6 separate regions of the Homo sapiens genome follow, and regions 1, 2, 4, 5 and 6 are each reported to be linked to region 3. Evidence: microRNA targets listed by miRTarBase, many of them from high-throughput screens and not tested one by one. Region 3 holds a microRNA gene; each other region holds the end of a gene's coding sequence.

Evidence for each region. The annotated mature microRNA hsa-miR-6744-3p reads GGGCCUCUCUUGUCAUCCUGCAG and lies in region 3 at 2,108-2,130, opposite strand. An mRNA with a match to its seed (bases 2 to 7 or 8) in the 3' UTR can be bound and repressed. Matches are read on the target gene's strand: a 7mer-m8 pairs with bases 2 to 8, a 7mer-A1 pairs with bases 2 to 7 and ends in A, and an 8mer does both.
Region 1: the mRNA of ANTXR1 is a reported target of hsa-miR-6744-3p. The part of its 3' UTR that is shown has no 7-base or 8-base seed match.
Region 2: the mRNA of SIAH3 is a reported target of hsa-miR-6744-3p. Seed matches in the 3' UTR shown: 7mer-m8 at 1,845-1,851.
Region 4: the mRNA of TMEM186 is a reported target of hsa-miR-6744-3p. The part of its 3' UTR that is shown has no 7-base or 8-base seed match.
Region 5: miRTarBase lists RTL10 as a target of hsa-miR-6744-3p. Seed matches in the 3' UTR shown: 7mer-m8 at 1,163-1,169 and 7mer-A1 at 1,716-1,722.
Region 6: miRTarBase lists TOMM40 as a target of hsa-miR-6744-3p. The part of its 3' UTR that is shown has no 7-base or 8-base seed match.

What each region holds. Positions count from the first base shown.
Region 1 is chr2:69,245,014-69,248,013 of GRCh38, reverse strand. It overlaps ANTXR1 (ANTXR cell adhesion molecule 1), which reads right to left. Exons shown (of 18, transcript NM_032208.3): 18 at 1-2,789. The coding sequence ends at 2,529. Among named protein-coding and RNA genes, the nearest start is that of GFPT1, 140 kb to the left of the region's middle.
Region 2 is chr13:45,780,879-45,783,999 of GRCh38, forward strand. It overlaps SIAH3 (siah E3 ubiquitin protein ligase family member 3), which reads right to left. Exons shown (of 2, transcript NM_198849.3): 2 at 1-3,121. The coding sequence ends at 2,505. Among named protein-coding and RNA genes, the nearest start is that of SIAH3, 69 kb to the right of the region's middle. RefSeq lists enhancers at 2,271-2,771, 2,772-3,121.
Region 3 is chr11:1,255,657-1,258,777 of GRCh38, reverse strand. It overlaps MIR6744 (microRNA 6744), which reads right to left and starts at 2,173; the gene lies at 2,108-2,173. MUC5B (mucin 5B, oligomeric mucus/gel-forming) reads right to left here. Exons shown (of 49, transcript NM_002458.3): 38 at 2,553-2,622; 39 at 2,007-2,107; 40 at 1,507-1,538; 41 at 1,068-1,248; 42 at 575-679; 43 at 411-448.
Region 4 is chr16:8,793,250-8,796,370 of GRCh38, forward strand. TMEM186 (transmembrane protein 186) reads right to left here. Exons shown (of 2, transcript NM_015421.4): 2 at 1,931-3,121. The coding sequence ends at 2,703. Among named protein-coding and RNA genes, the nearest start is that of TMEM186, 2.8 kb to the right of the region's middle.
Region 5 is chr22:19,848,239-19,851,339 of GRCh38, reverse strand. It overlaps RTL10 (retrotransposon Gag like 10), which reads left to right. Exons shown (of 3, transcript NM_024627.6): 3 at 1-3,101. The coding sequence ends at 173. The region is part of intron 2 of GNB1L (G protein subunit beta 1 like); the gene reads left to right. Among named protein-coding and RNA genes, the nearest start is that of GNB1L, 5.1 kb to the left of the region's middle.
Region 6 is chr19:44,902,677-44,905,785 of GRCh38, forward strand. It overlaps TOMM40 (translocase of outer mitochondrial membrane 40), which reads left to right. Exons shown (of 9, transcript NM_001128917.2): 9 at 354-1,013. The coding sequence ends at 493. Among named protein-coding and RNA genes, the nearest start is that of APOE, 1.6 kb to the right of the region's middle. RefSeq lists an enhancer at 2,437-3,109.

The DNA of each region.
Region 1 (3,000 bases), not on the chromosome of region 3:
CCTTCTTAACTGTAATTCTAAATAACCGGGGATGACACACTGAGTCGGTTTAAGAACAAATCCTGCTGAGCCTTTTCAAAATCATCATACATTTGCAGTTCCCTATTCCATCAAAATGCTTTGCCGAAACAACATCTTGTAACTGCACTGGGCATATGACTGATGTGCTGAATGGTGCATTTGCACTGATGCTCACCATCTCGTTGCTCAGCAACGTCAGCATCTCGGCTTGAACTTCTGAATGGCCGCGGGAATCACGCGGCAGTGCCATGGGGTGGGTGGACTGTTTTAGACTGCCAGCAGTCAAAACAGTTGTGATGGGCTCAATGTCTCTACACTGTGAGCCTGGGGAACCCATTCTCCTATGGAATGGTTTTCAGGGGTCCAGCAATGTCACTGCAGGTGGCTGAGATATTCTGGCCCCTGCTTATGAGGAACTACATGAAAGAAGAAGCCTAGTGTTCTAAAAATTAGACAATGCGGCAGGGTTGGGGAGAGGCTGGGGGGTTGCTTTCATGAGTCTGGAAATTTCTGGTTTTAGCTCTCTGAGAAGGCTGGGAGACTCTGTTGTAGGCAGCTGTGGGAGAAGGCTAGGGTTGGAGGTACACCTGGAGATGTGTCAGTTTGGTGTTGGCACTGCAGATTCAGCGCCCGTGGTCCCTGACTAAGGCACTCTGCCTAGATCTATTTTCCCCTGACTGTACCTTTTATGCCCCCTGGCTTTCCCATTCTCCCTGGAAACTCCTGTTTGTTTTTGCTTTCTAAGATAGAGATAGCAAGTAGGGTTCATTTCTCTCATCTGACTGTTGGGTTCATCTGACTGTTGAGTGGCGGCTCTTTGGAATTGTAATTTGAGAAGGATTGTGAAGAAATCAGTGGGCTTAATAGGAAATAGTGCTGTGATTGATTAGCAATGTCTGCCATGGCCACAAAAATTGGTATTGATAAAATAAATGCATCCCAGGCCCTTATATCTCTGTTCTAAGTAAAGTGAGTGAATGAAGCTGGCTTGATGTATTTTTGAAGGATCTTTGGAGACCATAGCCCAAGCCACTAAATGTATATTTATTTTATATTCTGCCTTGTTCCAGAAAAGATCTGAGAATTTGGGTGGCTTGGGACAGGAATTTTAGGATTTGTGGAAAGCTAGAGAGAGAGATAATTTTGAATAGGCTGATGCAGGAGGTCCAAGACAATGATCTCTGTTTTTATCCCTGGGTGATGAAGCCCAGTGTTTAGCAAGTGATTATAGGGCTTATTGATTAAACAGATCCAGAAAGACCTGGATAAATGGGGTGAGTCCTAGGCATGGTGGAAATTTCAGGCAGAGCATTTCTGTGTTGCAGATCTGATGTATTTCCCCTTGGTTAACAGCTGAGGTTCTATGTCGAAAAGCCAAAGAGAAGTATATTTGTATACACACACATGCCTTATGGGGGTTAATCAAAGATCCTTATTATGTCAGGACCATTGTCTCTCAGCTCTGCCCAGAAGTCTGTGGTGCATGGCTTTACCAAGAAAAAAAACAAAAAACAAACAAACAAAAAAAACTAGTGATATTGTGTGATAGGTCCTAATGATGGTATTTTGGGAAGATCAACTTATGTTTATCTCTGGAAAACAGGATAAACTTCATACCTCAAGTGATTTAAACTGAAGCCAAACCTTGATTTTTAACATGATTCATTAACAGGTTGCTCTTCGACAATGCCATTGTCTGTTGATTTAGGGTCCATGTCTGGCCAAAGCCAGCCACCTCTAGCTGCTGATGGCCTGTGGGTTTTAGAAACTGGCTGATGCTCCCATGAATACGCCCCTGTCTATTGCACACAACTGATTTCACTTACACATCAACATAGCAACATACCTTTTCCATCAGTAAACACCTGCTCCCCTTCTCACTTGGAAACTGGAAGAATTTGCAAGGAAAAGATGCCATACATTTTTTATGTACCTGCAAATCCCAGAAGAACATCCTTCTGCATACCCGTCTGATGTTGAGTTTCTTACCACACCAGGGACCCCAGCATTTCCAAAGTTGTAGGCAAAGTTTTCCTCTTTCTTGGGTGGTGCACAGGGGTGAAGGTCCTTAGGCTCCTAGGCCAAGGGTCCAAAGTCCAGGGATGGAGGTGGAGTAGAGGCAGGAAGGCAGCATTTTAGAAACCCAGCAATGTATTTCTTATCCAACTCTGCATTTCACCTTCAGATAAATGATTTTCTTACTGGTCTCCATGAGACATAATCCTGTTGAGAGCATCTTGCAGTTTCACTGTCTCTGGAACCTTCTAGAGGTGATAGATGGCTGGCTATAAATCTGACTGTAGTTGCCTCATCATTTGTTTTCTGGCAATTTAAAATATCTGTTTCTTTCAGCTGATCATGATTGTTGGTATACTGGCATTGCCAACCAATTTTTAGAATGTGTGAAGGTCAGTGGGCTTTATCACCACTCCTCTTCTCTAACTGGAAAGACTTGTTCTAACATCTCCTGAAGTTTCTGAGAGAGCCCAGAGCAGGAACTTTGGGCTCTAGACAGAAGGCCTTGGAGGAGGGCGGGAGGGAGGAGGTGCCCTGTTGGGAGGTGGAGCCTGGGGAGGAGGGGGAAGGGTGGAAGGTGGGGACGGGATGGGAGGGGTAGGGGCGCTGGGGGGCGGGGGAGGGCAGTGGGGCGCAGGAGGTGGGGGAGTGTAGATGGGGGCAGGAGGCGGCGAGGAGGTGTGGTAGGCGTTGTTGAGTGGGTACTTGGCTGGCTGGTTGTTCTTGACCCTGGTGAAGTTGATGCAGCGCCCCTAGAAAAGAATTGGAGAGAAGGAAACGTGAGCGGACGGCCTCACATCAGGGCCTGTGGTGCTGTGGTGGGCGGCTTGCAAGCAATATGTGGAAAGCTGGCCCCTGTTGGTGACAACTCTCTAGTGGCACATAGTAGAACTTGAGGACAAGTGAGCTCCCCACTTCCTTTTCCTGGACTGTGTTGCAAAACTGTTAAAATTCATCTTTTCC
Region 2 (3,121 bases), not on the chromosome of region 3:
AAGAGCCCTTCAGGAACTGTGAAGCTCAAATACAAACTGCTGGTACCATTTCCTATTCCCAATTCTTGGTTGTTAGTTTGCTCCTTCTTCTCCAGTTCTTCACATATGGATATGGAGAGGCCTTTTGGGGAGCACCATAGATGGAAGATAATAATACATTTCCCATGCTTTGTCCTAAAGCTTTCTAGGAACAAAAATATAAGCTCCCATCTGGGATCACTTATTCATAATACAGTCTTGTGTGCAGTGAAAATAACCTGAAGTCATTCCCAGTGTGGCTCAGGTAACTTGGCACAACCAGAAGGCAAAGGTGATGTCTGCAGGAGCCCTAAGGCCCTGTGAATGTTAGTTATATTCTTAGTGAGGTTTTTGTTTGTTGATCTGGAGCACCTGTGATGCTACACAAATGCTTTCAAAGTGGTTGAGTCTCAAAAACCAGGAGAGGACCTGTGGCTTCTAAAGGCATAAGACTTACAGCCAAGGGGGTCTTAGGTTCTGGGAAGGGGATTGGGGATGCAGTGAGGAGGAAGACAGCCAGTCTTTCCACGCACAGACGGACCAGCCTCAGGTGTTCTTGGGCATCTGTGTGATTGGAGGAGGGTGGCTGGTGCCCTGGCAGGGCATCTGAGAGCTCAAAGAATGCGCAGGCCCCAATCCTTTTTTGCGACTGCAGCATCTGACATGTGCCTCCATCTGTGGCAATGTTTTTTGCCCCTCTCAGGGCTCTGACGGAATGCAGTCTCAGCCCCAGGGGCCCAGCGATTACTGTGTGACCAGAGCAGCCTCTGTTATTAAATCTTGTATCGACTGGCACCTCCCTTCTGGTGCGTGGGGGTGTAAGTTGGCACCAAAAGTGGCTGGAGAATTAACCCAGTTGTTGGGGGAAGGGTGTTGTGTTTCAGGATCAGTTATTTTTGGTGGAGAAAAAATTGCAGATGGCCAGCCAGGGCAACCTGCCTGAGACTAAGTAGTCACTTGGATGCCTGCCAGGACCAAGCCGAGGGGGTGAGGTGCAGGAACAGGGCACGGAGAGTAATGTCTGGTTGGCCAAAGGCCCATTTGGCTGTCATGGGAATGTGCTGGGGATGGGGTGCCTGACTTCTGCAGTGTCTGGAGAGCAGCCAGAGGGGGGGGACAAATGCGATAAAAAGGAGCTAGAAGAGGTCCTACTGGGAAGGCTTATAGGTGTCCAACTTAGAACAGAAAAGACAAAGTTGACTAAACATGCTGACTTTCTTCAAATACACGAGAGACTTCTACAAGAAGATGTTGATGAATTGTTCTGACAACCAAATAAGAGAAAGCAGCCTGCGCAGAGGAAATATGGATTTCCGTCACTGTGTCATTCATACTGCAACAGGTGCTGAATACATACTTGAGCCGTGGTCACGTCTGCGTGCTGAATGGGACGGTAGGAGCATTTTAGAAAGTGAGGAAAGGGAAGAGAGCCTCCCAGGTTTGTAAGTGATGACCAGCCCGCCAGGTCAGAGATCCTGGGTGCCACCCTCTGAGTTCTTTGCATTTGATGATGAGTCCTGGTTCTGCTTTTTGCATGATATGAAAGAACTGCACCCTAGGGAGGAACTGATGGATTTTATAACTTGATAATAAAACTCTCTGAGGAGGGAGTGCCCTCTCAGAGATGGGAGATTAATTTTATGTTCTCTTTTTCCTGTTGCTTTTCATCCCCACCCCCCATCTTGCCTATTCTTTTCTACTACTTGCTCAACAGAAGGCAAAGGGGTTTTTAAGAAAGCATCAAAAATCTGAGGACTTTGATTCCAGAGCAGGAGAAGACGGCACAGCCTGGGAACAAGGTGACAAGAGCCCGTCACAGGAAGGTGGGCCTCTGACTACTCTCCTGAGCCCCAGCATCAACCTGAGCACTCAGCACACAATGACACCTCTAGCCCAGTCCCCAGCCCTGCGGTGGAGACACGATCTCCTCATGCCCGGCTAGCTCAGCTTTGACCTTGAGGTTCCTGGGAAGCTGTCAGAGTCATGTCTGGATGGTCTGAAATGTGATCCATCTCTGAGCTGGGCCCCTTCCCCAACCTGCCGACTGCACACGTTCAGATTTAGCTTGCTCTGAAATAGACTGAAAAGAGAAACAAGAAATGATTCTCACACGAAGCCTCCTTTCAACCCCAACAGTCTGCTTGATGGTGTTTTGATCCTTTCAAAACTAGCGGAGAAAGGACTTGGAGGTGACAGGAAAAAACTATTCTGAATAAATCTTACAAACATTCTATAAAACAACACCAACAAGGCAGGACAAACATCACACCAAGATCTTAAATTACAGGATGTTTACATAATATAATGCCCATGGCAGACAAAAACTAAATCTCACAAAGTACCTGAGACAAAAAAATAATAATAATTAAAAATTAAAAAAAAAAAAAAGAAAGGAGAAGAATAAAAAGGAGTCTGGAGTCCTGGTATTGGGAGGTCCCAGGCGTTTCCTAGGGAGGCTGTGTGGGGAGCATCCGTGGCTCCTGGCCTCACATTTCAGCTTCTGAGGGGAGGACCTCTGTCGCGGTGATGGCAATCCCAATGGCAAGGCTGCCGTTGTCAGAGAAGAGCTGTGCCAGCGAGGTGTTGAGGACGAGGCAGTCCCCGTCCGTAATCACCGAGTCCACGCACTCAAGAACAGACCGGGGCGTGGCCTCCCACTTGAGGCGCCGATGGTTTCTGTTGAGCTCCAGGCGATAGGTGAAGCAGTCGGCCTGGGTGGGGGTCCCAATCAGCATCATGGTGGCAAAGAACTGGGGGTGCCCTTCATGCCTCTCCTGTTTCCTCAGCACCAACAGAAAGTGGTGGCCAAGGCAGGAGTGCATGATGATCCAATCAGCCGGCGCGGGGAGGTGCATGTCCGTGGCCAGGAAGACGATCTCGGCTCCCTGGAGGATGTCAACCCTATGGATCTGCCGCAGGTGGGGCACCACCACCTCCAGGCGGCCTTCCCACTGGCAGGAGAACAAGGGACACATGCACAGGCAGGGCGTCACCGGGTTGGCGTGCAGCCCCGCCTCCTGGTGGTGAAGGTGGTGGGGGTGGGCGTGGTGGCGGAGGTGGTGGTGGTGGCGGTGGTGGCAGTGGTGGTGGGAGAGATGGTGAG
Region 3 (3,121 bases):
ACAGGGACCACAGGTGGGCAGGGAATCTGGGCAGGCAGAGACCCCATGTGGGCAGGAATCTGGGTGGGCAGAGACCCCATGGGGGCAGGAATCTGGCAGGCAGGAATCCGGGCGGGTAGGAATCTGGGCGGGCAGGCGGGGACCCCAGGCCAGTGTGTGCTGCCCCCAGGCTGTTGCTGGGAGCCCCTGAAGGGACCTCTCAGAGGCAGCAGTTGTGGAGCTCATGGCTGTCGACGTAAGGTGCCCCTGAGTCCCAAGCATGTCCCAGCTCTGACGTGTCCAGGGCCCCTGTGCGGATCGGCCCTCAGGGCAGGAATGTCAAGACAAGGAGTGGGGCTCAGAGAGCCCCGGGGCATCCCACACACATGTTCAGGCCCCAGGGCCACACCCACCCACTGCTGTGCCCTTACCCCGTAGAAGGTGCCATTGTACGAACACAGCTGAGGTCCTGGAAGGAAAGGGAGCTAAGCCCTCGACAAGTGGTGGGGAGCATGTGCTCCAGCGCCCCCACCATCCTGCACTCCCCCACCCCCAGCAAGAGGCCACCCAGGAGCCCGGCCCCAGCCCCGCTCACTGCAGCGGAAGGTGGGACAGCAGTCGCCCTCCTCCTGGGTGCAGATGGACTCCTGCCCTGGCGGGCACACAGGCAGGCTCTGGGGGCAGGTGGTTGTGTTGCACACTGCGGGAGGATGGAGGCCACTGTCTGGGCGCTGCTCACTCCTCCTCCCGACCACTTGTTCCCAGAGTAAGTCGCAGGCGTGCTTTTCCCCGAGGACCTGACCGCTTCACAGCCCCTGGGGGCTCCCTCCAGGCCCCTTGCTTGGCCACCTCCCCGCTGCTTCCCACGTCCCTGGGCCACTCCTGGGCAGGCCAGAGGTCACCAGCCTCATCGTTAGGAGGAGAATGAAGCACCTGGAGGCCATCTCTGCCGAGTGGTCCTGCCGCGGTCACGCCAGGACACAGTGGCTCTCCTCTGCTCTCCTGTGCCCAACCCACAGGCCCCTGGTGGGCACCGGCTCTGTCCCCCCTCACCCTATGCCGGGCACCTCTGCTCTGCAGCGTCTTACCGCACACCGTCTCGGGGCAGCAGGGGTTCTCGGCCCGGGGCCTGGTCACGGTTACGAAGCCGGGACGGTTGCACGGCGGGGGCTGACCCTGGGCGTCACAGGGCAGGGGCTTGCACTGCACCGACACTGAACCCTCGTCACACACGCAGGACTGGCAGTTGCTGACCCACCGCTCCCCGGGCTGGAATGGATCAAGGGGGTCCCTGAGGGCTCCTGGACAGACACAGGTCAACCCTGGGCATCTGTCCAGCCACCCCCTCCCTCGGGCTGGTACCCGAGTGGCCCAGAGTGATGGGGCAGGAAGCGCACACCAGCCACTGGCACGTCCACGTCACACTCGGGCGCCCCACAGCTGCCCTGTGGGATGGGGATGCTCCTTCCCTCCCTCCCTCAGCTCGCGAGAGGGTGGGGTAGGGCAGGTGGGGGTGGAGCCACTCACAAATTTAGGAAACCCATCGGGTCCCACGCAGGCTGGAAAGAAAACAGCATGGCATCACGGAGGGTGCTGAGTTTGCAGGCGGAGGGGCCTCTGGCCATGGGAGGTGCTCTCAGGCCTGGAGCCTGCTTCCCCCCGGGATGGAAGGCCCTGGAGAACTTTTGGGGTGTCAGATGTGGCTGGAGCTCAGGCCAGGGCACCGTGAGCCCAGCTGTCAGTGCATGGAAGCCTCGTCCATGGTGGTGGGAGGCAGGGCTCAGGGGAGGGACCATCACAGGATCACTCAAGGACAGAGCCTCCCTGTGGGGCTTCAGGGGACCGTGGGGGCTCTGCAGGGTTCAGGGCCACTCTGGGGCCATCCCATGCTCTGGTGGGGCAGAACAGGTCACGGGGGTCAGCTGGGGAGAGGGGAGAGCACATCATGGTCCTGGGCGGCTCCTCCCACCCTGTGTGTGCTTGGGTCGGGCCCAGGGTCGTATCCCGCCACAGGTGGCGGAGCTTACGGCAGGCCTGCACGCAGATGCCCATGTGTGCGTTGAAGAGGATCTGGTCCTCAGGGCAGAAGCAGCCCTCCGCCATCCCCTCCAGCTGTGGGCTCTGGTTCCTGCAGGATGACAAGAGAGGCCCTGAGACCTAGAGATCCAGGAGGCCTCCACTGTCATCCACGTGAGTCCCCAGGATGGGCAGTGGGGAGCAGGGAAGGAGATGAATGGGTGGAGTGCGGGGCTCAGGGTGGGCGGGGCTGGGGGCGGGGACGGGTGGGGCTGGGGTGGGGGTGGGCGGGGCTAAGTATGGGCGGGGATGGGTGGGGCTCGGTGGCGGGGCCAGGTGGGGATGCGGGGCCAGGCGTGGCCAGGGATGCGCCCCCTGCCTGACTCTGTCTCTAAGGCATCTGGGAGCAGCAGGGGATGTTTTCCAAGGAGTCCTGGGCTCGGGCACCCCAGAGATCTGTGGCCCACAGTGGGACACCCTCTGGCCTCCTCCTGCTCCCCCAGACCGGTCAGGCAGGCCTGGGTGGCAGGGAAGGCACCAGCCATCCCTGTACTTACCTAGAGTTGCAGGTGGCAGGCTGTATGGGGCCGCATGGCTTGTACACTTTGGTGGGTGGGCAGGTGAGGTCTGTGGGCACAGAGAGGTGTCAGACAAGCCAAGGGGTTGGGGGGGCCCAGGGCCGCCCCCAATCACCGCACAGGACACTCAGAGAGGCCGAGGAGTCTGGGGGGCCCGGGGCCGCCCCCACTCACCGCACAGGACACTCAGAGAGGCCGAGGGGTCTGGGGGGCCCGGGGCCGCCCCCACTCACCGCACAGGACACTCAGAGAGGCCGAGGGGTCTGGGGGGCCCGGGGCCGCCCCCACTCACCGCACAGGACACTCAGAGAGGCCGAGGGGTCTGGGGGGCCCGGGGCCGCCCCCACTCACCGCACAGGACACTCAGAGAGGCCGAGGGGTCTGGGGGGCCCGGGGCCGCCCCCACTCACCGCACAGGACACTCAGAGAGGCCGAGGGGTCTGGGGGGCCCGGGGCCGCCCCCACTCACCGCACAGGACACTCAGAGAGGCCGAGGGGTCTGGGGGGCCCGGGGCCGCCCCCACTCACCGCACAGGACACTCAGAGAG
Region 4 (3,121 bases), not on the chromosome of region 3:
GCATGGTGGTGGGTGCCTGTAATCCCAGCTACTCAGGAGGCTGAGGCAGGAGAATCGCTTGAACCTGAGAGGCGGAGTCTGCAGTGAGCCAAGATCACACCACTGCAACCCAGTCTGGGTGACAGAGTAAGACTCCATCTCAAATTTAAAAAAAAGGAAAAGTAACCACTGTTGACAAGAATGTAGAGAAACAGGAACCCTTGTCTGTTGCTGGTGAGAATGTAAAATGGTACAGCTGCTGTGGAAAAGTGGCAGGTCCTCAAAAATAAACAGAATTACCACAGGATCCAGTTAATCCACTTCTCAGTACGTACCCAAAACAACTGAAAGCAGGGACTCAAACAGATACTCGTATACCAGTGTTCACAGCAATAGCCAAATGTTCATTCATCAGTAGTCAAAAGGTGACGACAACTCAAATGTCCATCAACAGATGGACAAACAAAATGTGGCACACACAGAGAATACACACTGCACCCGTAAATATATTTAACCATAAAAAAGAAATAGCACTGACATATGCTACAACACGGATGCACCTTGACAACACTACACCAAGTCAAAGAAGCCAGATACAGGCCAGCCGCACTGGCTCACGCCTATAATCCCAGCACTGTGGGAGGCCGAGGTGGGTGATCACTTGAGGTCAGAGATTCCAGGTCAGCCTGGACAACATGGTGAAACCCCATCTCTACTAAAAATACAAAAATTAGCCAGGCTTGGCGTCAGGCACCTATAATCCCAGCTACTTGGGAGGCTGAGGCAGAATCATTTGAGCTGGTGAGGCGGAAGTTGCAGTGAGTGGACATCGCGCCACTGCTCTCTGGCCTGGGAAACAGAGCGAGACTTCAACTCAAAAAAAAAAAAAAAAAAGAGCCAGATACAAAGGGTCACATATTGTATGATTCCATTTATATGAAATATCCAGAACAGGTGAATCCAGAGGGACAGAAAGCAGGTTAGTGGTTGCCAAGGGCTGGAAAAAGAAGGAAATTATTGCTCAATGGGTATATTAGTTCTGTTTGGGATAATGAAAATGTTCTGGAAATAGATGGTGGTGACGGTTGTACAACATTTTTTGTTTTGTTTGTTTTTGAGATAGTCTGGCTGTCTCCCAGGCTGGAGTGCATTGGTGCAATCTCGGCTCACTGCAACCTCTGCCTCCCGGGTTCAAGCTTCTCAAGTAGCTGGGAATACAAGTGCCCACCACCATGCCCAGCTAATTTTTGTATTTTCAGTAGAGACAGGGTTTTGCCATGTTGGCCAGGCTGGTCTTGAACTCCTGACTTCAAGTGATCCACACGCCTCAGCCTCCCAAAGTGCTGGGATTACAGGCATGAGACAGTGTGCCCAGCCTGTACAACATTGTTAATATACTTAATGTCCCTGAATTGCACACTTAAAAATGATTAAAAGGATAAATTTGTTAGGTGTATCTTGGTATGGTTAAGAAAAATGGAAGGCTACACAATAAAAAAAAATATTTTTTTTTTGAGACGGAGTCTCACTCTGTCGCCCAGGCTGGAGTGCAGTGGCGTGATCTCGGCTCACTGCAAACTCCGCCTCCCAGGTTCACACCATTGTCCTGCCTCAGCCTCCCGAGTAGCTGGGACTACAGGCACCTGCCACCACGCCCAGCTAATTTTTTTGTATTTTTTAGTGGAGACACGGTTTCACCCTGTTAGCGAGGATGGCCTCGATCTCCTGACCTCGTGATCCGCCACCTTGACCTCCCAACGTGCTGGGATTACAGGTGTGAGCCACCGCCCCCAGCGATAAAACATTCTTATTGACTTTCGAGTGGCAAAATAATAAAGATCATGCCTTCCTTCCTCTTTACTGTGTTACAAATTGTATAATGAACATATATTATTAATTATGTGGGGCAATGTATATAACTGGCTTAAGTTTATAAAATAACGTACCAGCATCCGGTGCATTTGGCTTTATTACACTGCAGGGCCATCCAAAGCAAGAGCCTCTAGACCTCTGGGTGGTGAACAAATCTCAACTGGGGTTTCGTGCCTACCTGGACGACATCTGCTCGTCAATGTGTAGTTAACATCCTGACAGACCCTTCTGCCGCTGGATATGTGAGGGGCACAGCACAGGGCTCTGGAAGTCCCTGCTGACTGCTCGAAGCCTTTCTCCCTGCTAAAACCTCTGACCAAATGCTTAATAATATCTGCTGTAGGCTGTTGAGTCTGCCACACGTTTGACATTTATTGTTTATTCCCACACCCATCCCATGAAACAAGCAGGACTTTCCATTTTACAGATGTGAAAACCAAGATTCAAAGAGACTCAATAACCTGCTCCAGGACAAATGACAGAACTGAGACTTCTGACTCCAAATCTTACGCTCCCCCGCCACACCTCTTTGCCTTTCTCTTTCACACCAATGGACTCTATGGGTGACCTTGGCATAGGTTCTTCTAAGAACTGGCTCTTAACAAAAACTTCTGGCCATTATCTGACTGAATGTCACAAACAAGTGCTGTAAGAACTTGCTTAGAGCCTTTTTCCTAAACCTGTACACCAGCTCTTGCCTTGTGAATTTATTCACCACAAAACACATGTTCCCAGGGGCCCAGGCAAAGTCTCCAAGTACCCAGTCCCCTTTCTTCAGCCTTGCCCACACCCTCAGCCTTCCTGTTAATCCAGGCGACCCAGGGTTACCCAGAGGTCCAGGTCCCAGTTGTTCACTTGAGCATCTGATGTACCCCAAACACCTGTGTGAAACGCTCTCTGTCCAGGATGCGTCCATAGCGCAGGGTGACGTAGAAGGTCTGTTTCCCACTGTACCGCTGGATACGCACAAACATCTCCTGAGGCCGGTCCTTGGTTTCTGTCAGGGGAATCACATCTGCCATGGGACAGTATGTGTCCTGCCGCCAGCCCCAGAAGTTCAGATGGGCCACCCGCAGCATGGTGCCAGACTCATTCAGATACAGGATACCAACCAGTCTCCGTAAGAAATAGCTCATCCAGCACAGCATGGTCAGGGCAAAGCCCGATATCCCACTCATGAGGCACACGGTGTTGAGAGTGAGGAGGCCCTGGGAGTACAAGTAATAGCCTGGTGGCAAAGCTACCACTGTCAGGGCAGTCTGTGCCAACT
Region 5 (3,101 bases), not on the chromosome of region 3:
ATCCTCCTGCCCAGAGACCAGACCCAGCTCATCCAGGAGGTCCAAAACCCCAGAAAACAGAGGAGGAGGTTTTGGAGACAGAGGGAGACCAGGAGGTGTCCTTAGGTACCCCACAGGAGGTGGTGGAGGCCCCGGAGACCCCAGGAGAGCCACCACTTTCTCCTGGGTTCTGAACACAGCCCAGGTGGGAACAATGCTGCCCCTCATGATGAAGTGGCCTGTGTGGCTTGAGCGCCCCATAGTCCCCAGTCAGAGCAGAGTGGTGTCCCCAGATGACTTCAGACCCCATAGCTGGGCAAGATGCGCTTGTTTTGGACTCTGCGCTGAGCAGAACCAGCTCCCCCAACTCCAGCAGAGCTTGACCTCCGCCCTGTGCCCTTTCCCTGCTGCTGGCTCTCTGCTGCATCCCTGCCCGTCTTCTGGGAGTGCCGTCTCACCCAGGCCTGCTCCCACGAGGGGGTCGTTTTGTAGATCAACTCTCAGCAGATAGTTGCATCATCTTTGTCACCTCCACCCCCATAAAACACCCCCCTTGGTGTCTTCCACACTGGCTGGGACTGAACTGGGTCTGCCACGTCTGCCCTGTTGGGACCTCGTTCCTGTATGGGGTTTCTGTGTCTGTCCCCCTAGCCCCACCCTCTCTGCTCCCTGTGACTTCTGTCCCAGCTGGAATGTGAGGAAGGCTGCCTGGAGGAAGTGGCCACTTTGATTCTGGGGGATGAGTGGGATAGCATCTTGGCAAAGAATGATGTTTCCTGTGGGATTACCAGCAGTTCTGGGCAGCTGGAAGGTTTGGATGCAGGAAGGTGGGATGCAAGCCCCTTGCCAGGCTCAGCTGCAGGCATTCGCCCTTTGTGTGTTAACACTGTAGCTCTAATCGTGCCTGGTGTTCTGAAGCAGGCTCCTCTTCCCTGCTGCTGTGCTGCCATCCCCTGCTCACTCCGCACTCGCATGCATTGCGGATTCAGCACTTAAGCCCTAGTGTGTAAATGACTTGGATCTCCCTCCTGGCAGACTGTGACCCTCAGCACAGGGGCTCTGTCTTAGTCAGCTCTGTGGCCTGGTACACAATTGGTGCTCATTAAACACGTGTTGGATTACTGGCTGAGGTGGTGCAGTGGCTGCCTACCAGCAAGTCTTTGTTTCCCATTCTGTCAGGAGCAGAGGCCTGGCCATGAGCATTCCAGGTCAGCATTGCAGCTGTGGTTTCTGGCAGGGGCTTTGAGGGTCCAAGGGTCTGATCAAAGAAGCTGGGTGGGGCTGAGTAGGGGGTGGGTGGCTCTGCAGGTAGAGAACTGACTTCCGAGAGCTGTAGGTGAAGTGAGGACCAGGCAGCAGTCCAGAGCTGTGAGGCCCCAGGCCCAGAGGAATGGAATGAAGAAAGACCTGTTCCACACAAGGAGGGGTTTTCTAGTGGAAGCTGAGCTTGGAAGCTCCTGGAGCCAAGTTTACCACAGGATAGGCAGGTACAGCCGCCCAGTGTGTGCAGTGTGTGCCCACTCTGGTGCTTGGACAAGAAGTTCAAGTCCCTTTCAGGTTTACAATTGTGAAAACAACAAAACAACACCTTCCTGGAAAGTAGGAAGAAAAAGCAGAAATGTGAATTGGAAATACAGCCAACTATTTTAGGAAAAACTAATTAGCAAGCATCTGATTAAACTTATTCAGAAACTGGCCGGGAGCAGTGTCTCACACCTGTAATCCCAGCACTCTGGGAGGCCAAGGTGGGTGGATCACCTGAGGTCAGGAGTTCAAGACCAGCCTGACCAGCATGGAGAAATCCATCTCTCCTAAAAATACAAAATTAGCCAAGTGTGGTGGTGCATGCCTGTAATCTCAGCTACTTGGGAGGCTGAGGCAGAAGAATTGCTTGAACCCAGGAGGCAGAGGGTGTGGTGAGCCGAGATCACGCCATTGCACTCCAGCCTGGACAACAAGAGTGAAACTCCATCCCAAAAAAAAAAAAACAACAAAAAACAAAAACCTTATTTAGAAAAATATAAATTGTTGGGATTATTTTATGGTAACTATCACTAGAAAAGGCTCTGGGTTCAGATGGTTTTATGTGTGAGTTATTTCAGGGCACAGATACCTTGTAGGTAAAACAACTGGAAACCTTGGAAATAGGTGGGAAGCTATTTTTAGAAAGCAGGTATAGCCCTGGTAGCAAAGCAAGTGAGCTGGCAGAAGAAACCCATTTTCAGTCTTGATTCTGGTCAGATGTGAGAAGTCCCTGGATGTCCTGGCCCAGCCCCATGCTTCTGTGCCAGGTCACAGCTGCCCTCCGTCCGATGACTCAGGCCCCATCCCCCCTTTTGTGGGTTGGGTCAGACTGCTCCCTGATGCCTACCTCCAGTGCACTGTGGCCTGGCTCACCTGTGGGTCTGGCAGTAGAACCCAGAGTTGCTCTCTAGGATGGACAGCCTAGTCACCCAGCTGACCTTTACCCTGTCCCACAGGCTTCTGGACAGGCCACCTTCCCCATCTCCCTTTAGTGGACCTGAAGTGGATACTCCAGCCTGGGATTGCTGCCTTCTCTTTTGAACCCTGTCCTATTGGGGCTTTGGGGCTTTTGTGCCCTTGGGACCCAGGCAGCTCCTGGGGGTGTGTGAGTTATGGTCTGCCGTGTGTCTGAGGGCCAGTCATGCAGCATCCACCTAGGCAGGCTTGAGAGTCCTTGGGAGAGTCCAGGTGACCTGGTTTTTAATTAAAACGCGTCCTGTTTATTGTGGTTGGGCTCTGCCCAGAAAGGAAGGTAGGGCCTTGAAGTGGTGATGTCCAGGTTTCCTGCACAGGTAGGGTGGAGGCAACGATGGACTCTGGCATGGCCTTCCAGACAGGCAGTGCACACAGCTCCTTTCAGAGTGGCTTTGTTGCCAGCTGCTGCAGCACCTGCTTTCAGACAGATGATGACCAAGCTGCTTTCCTGCTGGGGGAAGGAGGCATTCCCCCTGGGTTGTTTTTCTCTTCTGGCCCCCACACACTGGCAGACCCGAAGGCAGGGTGCTCAGGAGCTGCAGAGCCTGGCAGGGTTTGCTGGACATGCTCAGGGACGGGCCATGGTGCTGGCTCTGCTTTCTAATCATGGTGTCAGTCCTTCA
Region 6 (3,109 bases), not on the chromosome of region 3:
TGTTTGAGCCTCCTGCTGAGCACTGCTGGGGCCACAGCGGTGACCAGCCCTGTCTTCACGGGACTCAGTGAGAGGAACAGATTCATCCGCAGAGTGGGCAGGACTAGGTTGGGGGAACCCAGGGGTCTAGAGGGCTTTTCAGAGGGCAGGGGTCACTGAGCGGAGAGCAGAGGAGGAGTGAGCCATTTGCTCCAGCGTGAAGTTGTTGGTGTGATGGGGTTTCAGGGTGGCAGGAGCAGTGTGGTTAAAGGTCTGGAAGCTGTCGGCATGTGGCTGGTATCCAAGGTGGCCAGGAACTCTGCATGGATATGGTGGGAAGCTGGCACGCCTCTCACCTCAGCTCTTCCCTGCAGGCTCTGTGGATAGCAACTGGATCGTGGGTGCCACGCTGGAGAAGAAGCTCCCACCCCTGCCCCTGACACTGGCCCTTGGGGCCTTCCTGAATCACCGCAAGAACAAGTTTCAGTGTGGCTTTGGCCTCACCATCGGCTGAGCCCTCCTGGCCCCCGCCTTCCACGCCCTTCCGATTCCACCTCCACCTCCACCTCCCCCTGCCACAGAGGGGAGACCTGAGCCCCCCTCCCTTCCCTCCCCCCTTGGGGGTCGGGGGGGACATTGGAAAGGAGGGACCCCGCCACCCCAGCAGCTGAGGAGGGGATTCTGGAACTGAATGGCGCTTCGGGATTCTGAGTAGCAGGGGCAGCATGCCCAGTGGGCCTGGGGTCCCGGGAGGGATTCCGGAATTGAGGGGCACGCAGGATTCTGAGCACCAGGGGCAGAGGCGGCCAGACAACCTCAGGGAGGAGTGTCCTGGCGTCCCCATCCTCCAAAGGGCCTGGGCCCGCCCCGAGGGGGCAGCGAGAGGAGCTTCCCCATCCCCGGTCAGTCCACCCTGCCCCGTCCACTTTCCCATCTCCTCGGTATAAATCATGTTTATAAGTTATGGAAGAACCGGGACATTTTACAGAAAAAAAACAAAAAACAACAAAAAATATACGTGGGAAAAAAAACGATGGGAGGCCTCCGTTTTCTCAAGTGTGTCTGGCCTGTTTTGAGCATTTCATCCGGAGTCTGGCCGCCCTGACCTTCCCCCAGCCGCCTGCAGGGGGCGCCAGAGGGCCGGAGCACGGAAAGCAGCGGATCCTTGATGCTGCCTTAAGTCCGGCTCAGAGGGGCGCAGCGTGGCCTGGGGTCGCTATCTTCCCATCCGGAACATCTGCCCTGCTGGGGGACACTACGGGCCTTCCCTTGCCTGAGGGTAGGGTCTCAAGGTCACTTGCCCCCAGCTTGACCTGGCCGGAGTGGCTATAGAGGACTTTGTCCCTGCAGACTGCAGCAGCAGAGATGACACTGTCTCTGAGTGCAGAGATGGGGGCAGGGAGCTGGGAGAGGGTTCAAGCTACTGGAACAGCTTCAGAACAACTAGGGTACTAGGAACTGCTGTGTCAGGGAGAAGGGGCTCAAGGACTCGCAGGCCTGGGAGGAGGGGCCTAGGCCAGCCATGGGAGTTGGGTCACCTGTGTCTGAGGACTTGGTGCTGTCTGGATTTTGCCAACCTAGGGCTGGGGTCAGCTGATGCCCACCACGACTCCCGAGCCTCCAGGAACTGAAACCCTGTCTGCCCCCAGGGTCTGGGGAAGGAGGCTGCTGAGTAGAACCAACCCCAGGTTACCAACCCCACCTCAGCCACCCCTTGCCAGCCAAAGCAAACAGGCCCGGCCCGGCACTGGGGGTTCCTTCTCGAACCAGGAGTTCAGCCTCCCCTGACCCGCAGAATCTTCTGATCCCACCCGCTCCAGGAGCCAGGAATGAGTCCCAGTCTCTCCCAGTTCTCACTGTGTGGTTTTGCCATTCGTCTTGCTGCTGAACCACGGGTTTCTCCTCTGAAACATCTGGGATTTATAACAGGGCTTAGGAAAGTGACAGCGTCTGAGCGTTCACTGTGGCCTGTCCATTGCTAGCCCTAACATAGGACCGCTGTGTGCCAGGGCTGTCCTCCATGCTCAATACACGTTAGCTTGTCACCAAACATACCCGTGCCGCTGCTTTCCCAGTCTGATGAGCAAAGGAACTTGATGCTCAGAGAGGACAAGTCATTTGCCCAAGGTCACACAGCTGGCAACTGGCAGAGCCAGGATTCACGCCCTGGCAATTTGACTCCAGAATCCTAACCTTAACCCAGAAGCACGGCTTCAAGCCCCTGGAAACCACAATACCTGTGGCAGCCAGGGGGAGGTGCTGGAATCTCATTTCACATGTGGGGAGGGGGCTCCCCTGTGCTCAAGGTCACAACCAAAGAGGAAGCTGTGATTAAAACCCAGGTCCCATTTGCAAAGCCTCGACTTTTAGCAGGTGCATCATACTGTTCCCACCCCTCCCATCCCACTTCTGTCCAGCCGCCTAGCCCCACTTTCTTTTTTTTCTTTTTTTGAGACAGTCTCCCTCTTGCTGAGGCTGGAGTGCAGTGGCGAGATCTCGGCTCACTGTAACCTCCGCCTCCCGGGTTCAAGCGATTCTCCTGCCTCAGCCTCCCAAGTAGCTAGGATTACAGGCGCCCGCCACCACGCCTGGCTAACTTTTGTATTTTTAGTAGAGATGGGGTTTCACCATGTTGGCCAGGCTGGTCTCAAACTCCTGACCTTAAGTGATTCGCCCACTGTGGCCTCCCAAAGTGCTGGGATTACAGGCGTGAGCTACCGCCCCCAGCCCCTCCCATCCCACTTCTGTCCAGCCCCCTAGCCCTACTTTCTTTCTGGGATCCAGGAGTCCAGATCCCCAGCCCCCTCTCCAGATTACATTCATCCAGGCACAGGAAAGGACAGGGTCAGGAAAGGAGGACTCTGGGCGGCAGCCTCCACATTCCCCTTCCACGCTTGGCCCCCAGAATGGAGGAGGGTGTCTGTATTACTGGGCGAGGTGTCCTCCCTTCCTGGGGACTGTGGGGGGTGGTCAAAAGACCTCTATGCCCCACCTCCTTCCTCCCTCTGCCCTGCTGTGCCTGGGGCAGGGGGAGAACAGCCCACCTCGTGACTGGGGGCTGGCCCAGCCCGCCCTATCCCTGGGGGAGGGGGCGGGACAGGGGGAGCCCTATAATTGGACAAGTCTGGGA